Homo sapiens: one gene and its partners. The protein of the gene in region 2 purifies or fractionates together with the protein of the main gene of each other region. This does not show direct contact. Each region holds a gene or a part of one and is shown on either strand. Other genes may lie near its edges.

Region 1 (3,500 bases), on a different chromosome or scaffold from region 2:
ATAATTATTTTATCTTAGCCTTTATTGTATTATTGATCATAGGTCAAAAATAAAATCTAATTTAGCTCTGATTCTATTGGAGAATACTATATGTTTTAAGATCCAGTGCATCTTTTAACAGAGCTTCTAAGAAGAAAACAGGAGTAAGTTTATGGTCTATGAAAATTGAATCCAATTCTTTTATTGTAAAGGAAATACATATTATTTATAACAATGTTTTATTATTACATTTGTAGGTTGTTACTGGTGTTCTTCGACGAACAGATGAGGTGAGCATTAAAGAGTAATTGCATTTTAACTTTTATTTTTCTGTTCTTTTTTATTGCTTTTCTTTCTTTTACTTTTTTTTTCCATTGTATATTTTAAAACGGGTACAAATTGTGCTTTCTTGAATTTTAGAAAAGAAAATACTGCTACCCATGTCATAGAACACGTATATTAACACATGGGGACTTTTCTGGTTTGGTAATTGATGGTATCCAATAACTTTGACAATGGTTATTTAAAATTTTGTTATGGAATCTTTTTTTCAAAGAACTTTTTCATAAAAGAAATTGTGGCATATTCATATAGTGGGAATCATCTAACAGTTAAAATGAATGAACTAAATGTATAAATATCTACATGGCTAAATCTCAAAAGTTTTGAATAAAAAAAAAAGCAGGTTGCCCAGGTATGTTATGCATTTCTACAGTGTTTTAAAATTCAGAAAACAATACTATGTATGGTTAATGGATGCTTAAATATGTAGCAAAAGAATAATAATGTGGATGAAAAGGAATCACACCAACCTCAGGATAATGGTCTCCTCTGGGAAGGGAGAGAGGAGAATAGTTTTAGAAGGGACTTTCATTGTATCTCTATCGTTTTATTTCTTGAAACATATGAAGCAAAAAGGTAAATGTTAACATTTGTTAAATATAGGTTGTGGGCACATGGGTGTTTTTGTAACATTATTTTATGCACTTTTCTACAATAGCTAGAAGATCCTTCTCAGTCCCTTTGGTAATAGTACATTGTGCTCAGAATTGTTTTGAACCTTACAGTATCTATTGTATGTGTGGCATTTAATTAACTGCTATGCCAGTACCATCTATTATTTGAACTTGTTTATTCTCTTTGCCTTATTTGTACTTAAGATAGTTTATAAAGCACCTTCACCTGTCATTGGTCACTGTATAAATGGTAGACATTTTTAGTTGAATTTTATCTGCAACTTTATCAAATAGTGTGACAATGTTATACAGTCTCTGTTGCACTAGTGCATTGATATATTATCTTCAAAACCCTCATTATCTTAACCAAATTTCTTTCAAACAGTTGTCATTAATGAGTACTAAAATATTTCTTCCAAATTCTGAGTCATTTTGTTTTCATTGACTGCCTTGTTTTAGAAATTACCCACCTAGCTTTATTTGATTACTGGTCTAAGGATGTGGAAAGGAGATGGGGAGGCAGATACAGGGTCAGTTATTTGTCATAGTGGACACACCTGTGCTTCTCCATTAAGCCTGATTTTCTGATCATAACAATAAAACTTTCCTCTTCTTTCCCCCCCCAGGCTACCTTCAGTAAGATTCCCATTGGATTTATCCCACTGGGAGAGACCAGTAGTTTGAGTCATACCCTCTTTGCCGAAAGTGGAAACAAAGTCCAGTAGGTTGTCAATGTGGGGAATTAGCATTTGTGGGTGAGCGAGACTGGGAATGAAAAATTTATGTGTATGCTATAACTTTCTTGAGTTTTGATAGCCTGAAACTTCAAATAATTAAGAGGAGGACCTAGATCAGAGTTCAGCCTTTCAGTTCATTGGGAAGTCTCCCAACTTGGTTGTGGGACTCTTATAATAAGTCTCCAGGTCAGGTAGGGAGGTGAATACTTGATGTCCTTTTGTCAGTTATGAAGATAATATCCCTGACCTAAACCGTTTTTGTGCTTGTACATTGTAAGATTCTTTAGTGAAGACATATTTGTGCTGCTCATTTGTTTGCTTTAAGTATATGCAATGACAAATAACAAGTCCCTTGTGAAGACTGAACTAGTAGCCTGGCTTCATTATCTTGATATTAAAAATAGCTAAAACAAGTAAATATAGCCACATCCTTTTGGGAATACTTAAAGTGGTAGACAGTGTAGACAAAGTAGACTGGGAAAGCAGTGTAGCTCTGACATCTAAATTAAATTGCTGTGAGTCTCACAGTGTTTTTGGGAGTCAAGCAAATTGTTGTTATTATTGTTCTTTTTTGCTTGAAGGCATTATGTAAACAAAGCTCTGCTCTTTCAAGAAGATAGGAATCTTGAATTTGAGCTTTGACAGTGATTAATAACATCATTTTGAGCAAATAGTTGTCAAGAAGACCCAAATAAATGGAGAGATAGCTGAGAGATCAGTTGCCTGATGGTTAACGTAAGCTTTGTGACACATTGGAGGAAGTCAATAAATAAATATTTGTTGCATGATTTAATGAAAATTTTCTCATGATTTTTCTGGTTATAATCTTCTAGAATAAATAATAATAATACCCAAGTGATTTTCTGTTTTGGTTAAGGATTTTTTTTTCTGCTTTGGAATTCTTTGATTAGGCTGGCTTTTGTGAATTTATTTTTGCTATTGTAATGTTAGGAGTCAACTGTATCTCTTTTAACAATTCTATATTTTAATAAGCATCTTAGTCCAGTTTTCAAAACACTAGGCATACACACATATATATATGTCAGATCTTCATTCAAACTTCTTTTATATTTCAAACCTTAATATAATGGGGATTATTCAGCTATTCATTAGCCATCCTGAGGGCCTAACTACAGGAGAGGCCATTTCAGTTGGCCATCCTTTTTTTTTCTTTTTCTTTCTTTTTTTTTTTTTTGAGACAGAGTCTCGCTCTGTAGCCCAGGCTGGAGTGCAGTGGCGCGAACTCGGCTCACTGCAAGCTCCGTCTCCCAGGTTCACGCCATTCTCTTGCCTCAGCCTCCGAGTAGCTGGGACTACAGGCGCCCGCCACCACGCCCGGCTAATTTTTTGTATTTTTAGTACAGATGGGGTTTCACTGTGTTAGCCAGGATGGTCTCGATCTCCTGACCTCGTGATCCGCCCGCCTCGGCCTCCCAAAGTCAGTTGGCCATACTTTTTATTCCCGGTTTAGAATTTCTGAGGGGCAGTAGATAATGACAGTTAATTGCTCACATTTTTGCTTTTCCAAGATGAATCCTGTCTGATTCAGGTGTTGGTTACATTAGAGAGCTTGTCTTCTCCTTGTGTCAGTGTAGATTTTTTGAATTGCTTTAGCCAGTATTCCAAATAGCATATGTCATTGATCCAAGGGTAGACCATTTTCCTTGGAGACCCCTTGCCTGTCCAAAAGCTAATTTACACAGAGTGTGGCAACCCCCAGGGTCTGAGAGAGTCTTCAGTTTGGGGGAACTGATTTTCTCTTGTAGTTAAACTACTACTGTTGCTGCTGCTATTTATAGTTTAAAAATTTATAAAACTTAATTTATAA
Region 2 (3,937 bases):
GATTCAATTATATGTCTTAATTCTAAGTATCAGTATTCCACTTCTCCCTATTCAGTGCCACCTCCCATGAGAAACTTTGCAACACTGAATTTAACAGATCTCAGAATTAGCAACCTACACAAGTAAATTGAGATTTTGAGCAAAATCTCAGTAAAATGTCAGAGTCTTCTTGATCCCACAGTGAAAGAGGAATAAATAACAAGTTCTAAAGAAAAGAGGGGCTAGTCACTATTGTTAACATTTATTACTTACCATGTGTCATGGGCTTTGCTAAGTAATTTAAAGGCATCTTTTGGTGTCATGCACTCACTTAATTCCTTTCACTGCACTCAGAATAAACCCCAAATCTCTGTTATGGCCTTCTGGGTCCTAAATGGTCTGCACTCCTGCTGACCTCTCAGTTTGATGAGGAAGTTTCAGCCACACATATCTTCTTTCCACTCTTCTCAGCTTACATGTCACCTCCTCCAAACTGCTTTTCTAAAGTAGCTCACTCCCCACCTCATTACTTTCCACATCAAGACCGTGCTTCTTTATATTATCACCATATTATTTTACTTATTTTATGCTTTTTCATTGCATGTTTAGTATTTTTATTTATGTTTATTTACTGCGTGCTTATTATTTTTACTCCATGAGACTGTAATCTCAACTCAGGCATAGACCATCTATGGTTTGTTCACATTGCACTGCACCAGAAAGGATCTTAAGAAGCATGTGTAGAATTCTCACACCTCTAGAAGTTGGACTACATTATTTCCTACTGCTTTTTAAATAGGCAAACGAAAGCTTGGAGAGCCACGTTAACGTATCCTAGGTCTGTCACAACCAACTGGTGGCCAGGGTCTGTGGATCTTCAAGCTGGAGTTGGTCACCTCCTAGCACAACTCCATAGGAGGAAGTGAAGCTCAATACAATTCCCTCCTGTCCTCCAACGATAGGGGCAGCAGGGTCTGTACCCAGAGGAAACAAAGAGCATCATCATTATCATCACAAACTGGTGTGTGCTTACCGTATTGATGATGTGCCCAGTCCCCACCTTGCCTGAGACCAGAACTCCCAGCCAGCACCGGCCACGCACCCGCGGAGCTGCCAGGTAGCACCCGCCCCCTCTCTCTGCGCAGGCGCGCGCCTCCTGCTTCCGCTCGGGGCGGGGCTGGGCTCCCGGGGTAGGTCCGCGGCTGCTGCTGCGTCCGACCCCCGGCCGGCGCGGGTATGGAGCTTGGGGGTCACTGGGACATGAACTCGGCCCCGAGGCTGGTCTCGGAGACCGCAGAGCGGAAACAGGAGCAGAAGACAGGAACCGAGGCGGAGGCTGCCGACTCCGGTGCCGTCGGAGCCCGCCGCTTCCTGCTCTGTCTCTACTTGGTGGGCTTCTTGGTGAGTGCGAGCGTGGGGGCTGGGAGCAAGTGCTGACTGTGTTCGGGCCTGGGGACCCAGGCGGTTCTTGGAGCTTCCGGGGAGCTCCCAGGGAGTGGGAACCCGCAGTCCGCCTGGTGAGTGCCTCACTACCTATCAAGCTCTCCTCTTGCCCTATCACCCACTTCAGTCTGCATCTGGCCACACTGCTTTATTGCCCCTCGCGCTTTCTCTTGCACCCCGTTCGCGGAACGTCTTCCCTTCCCTGCCTTTTGAGAAGCCCTGGTACCAACCTCAGGTGTGACCAGGTGTTAAATGCTGTGGCAGGTGCAGCTTTTGCAGGGCGGAGAACAGGGGTGTGGGCAAGCTTGGAAAAGCCCAGCTGCTGTGCGGCTGCTGGTGAGGTAGGGACACGCAAGCCTTTTTACCAGAACAGGCAGGGGAGGCCGCTCTTGACCCCGCTTGGACAGATTTAGGCACATTTTCACTAGGATTCTTGGTTGACTTAAATATTAAAAAATGCAGATCAGAGTGAATTTTACCCATCTGCCTTTCGACAAACTGCGCATTGCACAGCGTAGGTTTGGTTTCATCATGATGTGTGTGCCTGTGGTTTGCTTTTTTACCAGACCAGGCTGGAGAAGCCGCTGTTGATGACCCCACTTGTACAGAATTGGGTGCATTTTCACTAGAGCTCTCGGTTGACTTGAATGTTTAAAAATGCAGATCAGAGTGAATTGTACCCATCTACCTTTGGACAAAGGGTGTGCATTGCACAATGGCGGTTTGGTTTCATCGTGTGTGTGTGTGTGTGTGTGTGCGCGCGCGCGTGTCCTGGTTTGCTCCCTGAGTGCTAATTTCCCACGTAGAATGGAAAGTTTAGTAAGCTGATTCATGGCATTTCTGAACACCTGCCATGTGGCAGGTGCTGCGGAGCTTCACTATTGTAATCCACAGTTCTGCCACAGAAGAATTCAGTCTTACAAGTAAGCTGATGTTGGTAGTTTCTGGGCCATTATCTGCAAGAACCCTAGATCCACCTCTGCACTCCTCCCTTTCCAAGGCTAGGCCTGATTCAGCCCTGAGTGTGAGCTAATCCAGTATCTTGAGGGTAAGGAAGCTGCGATAAGTGTCAATGGGAGAAGGCTGCCTTTGAGGCCTTGAAGATAGTATCTGATGGCACTGGGCCCTGGCAGGGAGTCATCGTTTTCTGCCCAGATGCAGATCAAGACCACCACTTCTCCCAGTTTCATGCACTCTCCATGCCACCACCTCCATGCAAGGCGTTCAGTTGGTAGCAACTCTATGTTGAGTTAATAGTTAAGATCACCATGAAAGCATGTTCATCAAATTGCTGCAAGCCCAGAAACACAAGGTCTTCAGGGAGGGCGGCTTTTTAGAGAGGATTTCTCTGCCTCTAGGCCATTGCAGGATCCACCCTCCAGCTCCATGCCTTTAACTTCAGAGACTGGCACTCCTTCTGACCACTATTCCTTTAATCTAGTAGTTCATTCTCAGCATGGGGATGCTTCTTCTACTTTTCAGTCTAGGCACCTAGAATTCACAACCAGTGAGTATGGGTGGTTCTTGGAGAGGAGTTGGCTGACATCCAGCCTTTTTAGTTATGGGTCCCAAGCTACTGCTGTCCTGTCTCAGAAGGGACTTGGGCTGGTTCAGCCAGATGAAAACATTTGAGCCCTTACCTGGAAAGTCCAGACTAGGGTTCAGAGAATTTGACTTAGAATTCAAAGTAGTTTTAGTATTAGAATAAAACAAAGCAATTCGCAGATCATTTGTTAAGGTCAGCCTTCCAATACAGATTTGAATATTCACAATTTATCATATGTTTTCTTTATGCTGTGTATTTGGCAAGTCTAATCTAGCAAGCCTGATACAGAATTTTAATAACTTTAATAATGTATTCAAGAGAACCATTAGGTGTCTCATATCTTAAGGGAAAAGTTTATGGTTTCCCAAAAGTTGAAAGAGTAGGGATTTTTTTAATGGAAAATATTGTAAACAATTAAATATATGAAGCTTTACATGAAAGTCACATAAAGCTACCTAACAGATGATTGTTAGGTAACATCTAAGGAACATTATACATAATTTAGTTTTTTTTTGACATATTTAGGGATGTAGAGACCTCTAAGATTCTTGGACAAATGGTTTCTGAATGGGAGAGGAAGGGAACAAGCTTAGAGAAGTCATTTGCCAAATTGTTCTGTTTTAGCAGTTATCCGTACTTCCAAGTTTTAATTTGTTTAGGAGGGAAGACCAAGATGACCCTTGAGGCCCGTTTTGTTTAGGATGCTTAGATGGTGATGAGATCTATTATTTCAACCACTTTTTTCCTCCAGATACTTGGTGAGATTTGTTTTCCATCCCATCAGCTTTATTCAGGTGATAATTCATTTTCATTGAGATAGTCCAGTAATCAATAATTACTGGGGTTCCTACCCTGAAAAGAGTCTTGAAACTTTTGAGTGTACATATTCATCAATTTTTATTGAAAAATGTTGATATTCAGTGAAAGTTTAAGTGGCCCCTTCTGACATGATCTTTTTACAAGTGGTTA
Region 3 (3,500 bases), on a different chromosome or scaffold from region 2:
CTTACGGATGGGACCTTCTCCATCAGCATCCCTGGGTCAGGTCCTGGGGTTTTGCTGAATGGAATTTTCTTTCCATGTCTCATCATCACCACTTGCTGAACCCTGGATGACAGAAGACACACACTCACTTAAATCTTTAGACTCTGCCTGGGTCACAGACCTCTTTCATTAATTCACATCATTTTGTTTCAAAATGGGTGCCTGGCAGCAAATCCCCCGCTCTAGTTTTTGGTGAGTGAAAGTGACTGACTGCTCATCCTATTTCAACAAATATGTACTGAGCACTAGCTGTATACCAGACACTGCACCACTGAACTTTGTTAAAGAAATTCAGACCTTTGGAGCACTAGCTTTTGAGCGAGGATAGATTTTCACCTGGACTCAGAGAAACAAGGGCTGCTGTTTATGGAGCTCGGGTTCTTGGGCTCCAGAAATCCCCATTTCCCTCCTTCCCCTGGTGGCCTGCAGGGCATGCTGTGGCCTGCTTAGCGCTGCCCCTGCGATCGAGGAGGATTTCGTTTCTTTAAATGCCCCAAGAGCCAGGTTCTCTGAAGAAACTGGACATTTGCAGCCCAGGGGGCCCTCTTGCAATGTAAATAGTGATCTCATTTATTCAAGTCATGGATTGGGACACTCCTGGGTGGGTTTTCTCATAGAGAGGCCAGTCTGCTGTGTTGGGAAGTAAGAACCTTGTCACTAGGTTGGGACACTCTGGGGAGTGTGGCCTTTACTCCTCTCAGGACCCCTAAGTCCAGCCCTGCATTGTTCCTGAGGTGGATCCTGCTGGGGGCAGGTGTCCCCTCCTTGGGAGGTGGGTTTTCCTGGAGGCCAGTCCCTGGCACTGAATCCTCATCATACCTGTATGTTGTCCCTTAGGTATCCCCTGTTTCCTACCTGAGGGTTTCCATGAGCCCTGTCCTGCACACCCAGAACAAGGAGGCCCTGGTGGCCGTGCCTTTGGGAATGACCGTGACCTTCACTGTCCACTTCCACGACAACTCTGGAGATGTCTTCCATGCTCACAGTTCGGTCCTCAACTTTGCCACTAACAGGTAGGATGTGGGCAAGGGTCATTTCTCCTATGAAGTCCTGTCTGGTACCTGGTAGAGACAACTGGGGATAACACAGAAAGTCTGCTGCTGTTGAAGGAAGATGTGTATTACTTCAGTTTCCAAGAGATGTGGGCATGCTGCACCATGCAGGGCCACGAGGAAACACCACTGCCCTTGGGGGATGTAGACCAGCTCAGAGGAAGACAGACAGGCATCAGCCCCCAAAGGAGGAAACAGGGCATGGGGCAGCTCCAGGGAGTGCTCCCCGAGGCACAGGAAATTGGCCCTTCAGCTTCGGCTGCCCACAGGTCCTGCCACAGTTGTGTTTCCCTGTTGCTGAATGCATTCAAAGACAGGTGTCAGGGGTGTTGCCTTATGGAAAGAACTGGGGTTTAGAGTCAGGCCTGGTTCTAGCCCCAGCTCTGCCCTTCGTGGGCCCTGTGAGTAGGTCACCATCCAAAAATCTGTTTCCACACCTCTCACGTTGGGCAATATGGCCTAGGTTCCAGGGCTTTCCTTCAGCTGAGGGAGTGGTCATGAGGACCGCTGGCAAACCATGGCACTCCGTGTGTGCGCACATAATTGCCATCCATCAGTTTAGGGCATGTCCTGGAGGAAATGGAGCCCAGTTCTCCCAGCCCTTTGGCTGCACTGCAGGTCATTCTGGCCTTCTTGTAGCAGGAGCACCTGATAGAGACCTAGTCAGCACTCAGGGTCAGAAGGTGTGGTGGAGGCAAGGATGCAGCCATGATCCCTAACCCAAACTGTCACCCCACGCAGTCCACACTTCTGCACCAAAGCTGCCATTGCCAACATTGACTGAGCACCTGCCCTGTGGCAGGTGCCTCCCCACTGCTGACCTCATGTAATGCTTATGCCAGGCCTGCGTCACGGTCACGTGATGATCCCCATTTTTCAGAGGAGGAAAGGGGCAGAGGCTGCTTCTGCAGTCAGGTTGCATAGTAAGGGCAGCCTTCCCTTTCTGGCATGTCCAGTTCCCTGGTGGGAAGAGCGTGAGGAAGCACTCTGGATCTCTTTCCCCTCGGGGCCTCAGCTTCCTTTCTGAAATGCAGGAATGATGCTGCTGCCACTGTTTGGCTGCGAGCTGCATGTGCTTTCTGGCATGACAAGTGAGGAGGTCGAGCCTGTGCCACCTGCCTGCAGTGGTCCCTCATCTGGGGCCACTGCTTGGTAACCTCGAGTTGGGGCCACACCTGGGACCTCAGTCAGTTGAATGCTTTGCTCAGCAGAGGACATGGATTACGTTTCTCCCTTTGGGAGTTGGAAGCTTCTTTCCCGAGACTGAGAGCCCTCCTTTCTCTCCTGTGCCTAGAGACGACTTTGTGCAGATCGGGAAGGGCCCCACCAACAACACCTGCGTTGTCCGCACAGTCAGCGTGGGCCTGACACTGCTCCGTGTGTGGGACGCAGAGCACCCGGGCCTCTCGGACTTCATGCCCCTGCCTGTCCTACAGGCCATCTCCCCAGAGCTGTCTGGGGCCATGGTGGTGGGGGACGTGCTCTGTCTGGCCACTGTTCTGACCAGCCTGGAAGGTAAGATAGATCCTGAGCAAGGGAACCTGTGGAGTCACGGACGCTTGCAAAGCTGGGTGGGGGCTACCTGGGCAGGGGCTCGGCACCAGTCACGGGGGCCTACAGGCAGACCTGCAGGATACTCAGGAGCAGTGCTCCAAAACTGCTGCCCGGAGACCAGATCCAGCCTGTGCCTGTTTTCTGCAAGTAAATTTTTGTTGGCACTCAGCTGTGCCATGCATTATGTATGGTCAGTGGCTGTTGTCACCCTACCACTGCCAGATTGTGTGGTCATAGCAGAGATTGTATGGGCTGCATAGCCCAAATGCTTATGTCCGACCTTCACAGAAAGCATTTGCCAGCCCTTTTCTGGAACAGCTCTGCCAAGTCGGTGGGGGGGTCCCCTGCCCCTGTGGGGCATCCTGTCTCTGCATAGTCTCACTCAGTTCCTCTAGCCAGGAGACACACGGATCTCTGCTGCTGCTGAGGAACTGAATTCACCATTTTAGTGAATTCTGTGGGAAGTGGCCGCCATAGTGGACAGCACAGGCTGGGAGACTTAAGCAAAGAAGGACACTGGGCTAAATCAGGGGCTTCCAAATTTCAGCCATGCCCAGGTGACCTGTAGTACATCTGTGGAACACGTGTACAATTATTTACTTAGCTTTTATTTTCAAATTGTCTCCACCTTTTTTTTTAACCTTACTAAATTCATTTTAAAAGGAGATGAAATACTACCTTTAAGGAAAAACAAATATAATTTGCCATAAATAGATTATGGTTGAGTCCTTTAATTGTACTTATTATATAATGTGATTGGCTTTTAACTCAGATGTGTATGTGGTGAAAGCTCTGAGCCTCACACCTGCTGTCTGTTGCTAAAAAGGAATTGATAAGGCAACGAAGGGATGGGGA
Region 4 (3,500 bases), on a different chromosome or scaffold from region 2:
GTACCTCTTCCCTAATTCTTCATTTTGAGACACTCCACAGTTTGCTTGGTGTGGGTTTACCTTTGAGTTTTTTTTTTTTTTTTAACTATTACAACTGCACTATAAAGTTACTATTGTTCCTTTTAATAAATACCTTGTGGGGATATACTTTGAGACTATGCAAATTTCTTGTTTCTCGTCACCCTTTTTCCCATTGATTTTAGCATCCATTGACTTTTTCATGAAGCAGTTATTACTGGTATTTGCTTAATAGTGATTCTCTATTTCTCTCACCAGAATATTCATTTAACCAGTGTCATCCACTGCCACCATTTTATGTGAAACGAACTACCCTACAATTAGCCCACGATTTTCATTGGTATTTGTAGAGTTTTTCACCACTTAATTAGCATGTGGTCTATAATAGTGTGCTCACTATGTTTGTGGCACTATTTGGGTATTAAAACAACAACAACAAACAGCAACAACAATAACAACAAAATAGCTGGGCACCTGTAGTCCTAGTTATTCAGGAGGCTGAGATGTGAGGATCACTTCAGCTCAGGGTTTTGAAGTTACAGTGCATTATAATTGTGCCTGTGAATAGCCACTGTACTCCAGCATGGGCAACATAGCTGTACTCCAGCATGGGCAACATATTTCTAAAAACAAAATAAAACAAAACAAAATAGGATAATGTAGTAACTAATTTTGGATAGCTTGTAGTCTGAGGAAACTAGTGTAAGACACATCCAATAGCTATGAAGTATTAGAATCATAGAATGTTAGAAGCCAAAGGATTCGTTGAATAGTTAGTTCAGATATGGTTAAGTAGCATTCTTAGGATTCAAATAAGTAGAATATACCTTGTTGGGAATTATTTTGCTAGTAGACCAAGCCCTCTGGCACAAGTTTAATTTTTCCTTGAGTTCCCTTACCATATATTGGTTATTTAGTCGCTGTACTAATGACTCAAACTCGTGATACCATAAATCGCTAAGCAAATAGATATCTGTATCATTTTGATATATCTTTGCCCTTAGAGATCCTGGCTTAGGTTTTTCTAATGGTGTTTTCCACATTTTGAAGCATGTTTTTTTTCTTTTTTTCTATCTTGGCCCATATCTCCTACTGTCTTCCTACTCTTGGATTATGACATAGGCAACCATTCACTCATATGAGGTGCTTTAAATTGCTGTTCCTAGTAAGATCTCAAAAGTAATAGGTAAAAACTTGTTTGAGTGGTCATCCTGTGCTTAAACCAATGTACTTAGTCATCTTCTTGAAATCTCACCTCTCTTTACCAGAAAATGAGTTGAAGCTGGCCATATTGTGTATTGTGCTGTGTACAGTGTTGAACTTAGTGGTTCTTGGTGGTGAACTTAGGAGTCCAATCTGGTAAGGAGTGGAGTAGCTAAAAAACTTGCTTGGGACAAGCACAGCAGTTTTACTTGGCTCTTATGCTTATTTGAGGTGGCTTGGTTTACTTGGTGCTGCCATTGGTTATGGTTGTCTTTTTTGAACAATCCCTCCCACCCCCAATAAATGATGCATTTAAGATGCCTGCTCTTTCCAGAGGGAGTCTCGTATTCCATTCTTCTTGCCTCCTATCACAGTTTCTTCCTGAGAAATGATAGAAATAAAAAGCTCTATCTCTTTTTATCTGAGTCACAGTTGTCTCATCTGTAAAAGGAGAGGTGAAGTCCGACGGCTAGGAAGTAGAGGAAGCAGGATATCAAACCCAAGTAAAGTCAGGCTCCAGAATCTCTTTCTCGCTCTGTTGTCTCTTCTTGATCAGTTCCTTAAGGCTGTGGTGACGGTGAAGTGAGATAAGGCATGTAAAACAGCGCAGTGTAGAGCTCTCCGTAAGTTTTTAATGAAAAGTAAATATGATTTTTGTTAGAAGGTAGTAGCTGATCTACAGTAGAAGAAATGTCTGAGCAGTAACCTTTTGAAACATAAAACACAATTTTGCTTTGAAACAAAGTGCAGTAGATTTACAGAAAATGAAAATGTTTATATGGAACAGTTGGTTGTATGGCTGAACATGTAAGATTTGATTATCAGTTGAATATTGTATCGTTAACAGAAACTTCTTTAAGTATTTCACAGTGATATATAATGGCATTTAAAAAAACCTTTTAAACCTAAATTCACTGATTTTTAAGAATTGAGGGAGCATTGCAATGCATAATTAATACCGTAGGGCTTGGTATACTTAATTGAAATACTATTCCTATTGGCCTTGTTTTTCTCAATTGAAATGAAAGTTGATTCTCAGTTTGTGGTCAATTTTCTACACTTCTGATAATTTTGTGGTGGACCTGAGTTCCAGAATAATAAGTGAGAATAGCTTAGAAAGAGAGAGAAAGGCTTTTATTGAACTGGAAATTCTACTGATGGTTTTGCCATAGAAATAGAATTAATTTACATGATCTTTAAAATTAATATTCATACACCCAGGAAGGATATCTAGGGTTATTTCTGTATTAATCATTGGACTAGGTAGGAATGTCTAAGAAAAGAGTATGATTATTTCATGTGTTTTCTTTAGTGATCTTTTACATTTTTTTCTGTATTATTATTATTATTTTTTTACTTTGTTGCTACATTGTAGCTTAGCTTTAAAGACTCTTCTGAAAGGTTATTATGTTAGTGTATGGCCCCTTCACTTTCTAAAAGAAGTGTTTAGCTTTTATTAGATATTTGTGCATCTTTGCATTGTGTAGCTGCGAAAGGGATATGAGCTTGAATTCTTCGCAGAGGAGTATTTGAAGAAAGCCTCAGATAATGTTATTCTAAGAAGAATCCACATGCTATAATTATATTTCTTATTAATTTGGGGGGAATTTTCATGTAATTAGAATATTGGCTTTATTTAAAAAATCTATATTCAGGCATCAAACTTTAGTTTACTAAGTAATAACCCTTACCAGAATGATTGCTTGTGCAATAAGGAGAAATTATATATTTCTCTAGGGGAAAAAAAGGTTCAATAGAAGTATAGTTTAATAATATTTTATTATTTAACTTTTGACAAAGTCGACTGAATTTGCCATTGTTTTTATTACACATTTTGTACAGTTTTGCCGTATTGGTTGAATTTTCCTTAGAAACAAAACAATCAATATATGCTTTACTAGATTAAATCTGAAAAGTGACCTTAATATATGAAGTCATGCTCTGGTATAAAGATCATATAGAAGATAGGTAAAGAGTAAATGCTTCTTTATTTTTAATTGTCTTTTTATTGAAGGGAGATGTTTTCAAATGTATACTTGAAGATGTTTCTCCTTTCTCCATTCTGCTGTCAAGTTGCTTAAACAGTGAGCTGTATATACAGTGAATACATTTAAGCTGCTAGGGTGAAACTCCTAACTGAATGACAGTTCTCCATTTCTTTTTTCTTTTTTTTTTTTGAGACGGAGTCTTGCTCTGCTTCCCAGGCTGGAGTGCAGTGGCGCCATCTCGGCTCACTGCAAGCTCCGCCTCCTGGGTTCACGCCATTCTCCTGCCTCAGC

What was found. Proteins that work in one complex are often made in the same cells at the same time.
Region 1: the proteins of SLC67A2 (region 2) and AGK purify together in Homo sapiens (affinity purification with mass spectrometry; one large-scale study listed by BioGRID and IntAct). This does not show direct contact.
Region 3: the proteins of SLC67A2 (region 2) and NUP210 purify together in Homo sapiens (affinity purification with mass spectrometry; one large-scale study listed by BioGRID and IntAct). This does not show direct contact.
Region 4: the proteins of SLC67A2 (region 2) and CDIN1 purify together in Homo sapiens (affinity purification with mass spectrometry; one large-scale study listed by BioGRID and IntAct). This does not show direct contact.

The regions. Positions count from the first base shown.
Region 1 is NC_000007.14:141,613,910-141,617,409, forward strand, and holds part of AGK (acylglycerol kinase, mitochondrial isoform 1 precursor), read left to right. Parts: intron 1-236; coding exon 237-269; intron 270-1,561; coding exon 1,562-1,656; intron 1,657-3,500. UniProt on the Homo sapiens protein: Lipid kinase that can phosphorylate both monoacylglycerol and diacylglycerol to form lysophosphatidic acid (LPA) and phosphatidic acid (PA), respectively. Does not phosphorylate sphingosine. Phosphorylates ceramide.
Region 2 is NC_000002.12:102,734,089-102,738,025, reverse strand, and holds the start of SLC67A2 (major facilitator superfamily domain-containing protein 9), read left to right. Parts: upstream 1-1,137; 5' UTR 1,138-1,215; coding exon 1,216-1,380; exon of another isoform or gene 1,381-1,496; intron 1,497-3,937.
Region 3 is NC_000003.12:13,326,323-13,329,822, reverse strand, and holds part of NUP210 (nuclear pore membrane glycoprotein 210 precursor), read left to right. Parts: intron 1-876; coding exon 877-1,052; intron 1,053-2,385; coding exon 2,386-2,606; intron 2,607-3,500. UniProt on the Homo sapiens protein: Nucleoporin essential for nuclear pore assembly and fusion, nuclear pore spacing, as well as structural integrity.
Region 4 is NC_000015.10:36,586,126-36,589,625, forward strand, and holds part of CDIN1 (CDAN1-interacting nuclease 1), read left to right. Parts: intron 1-3,500. UniProt on the Homo sapiens protein: Plays a role in erythroid cell differentiation.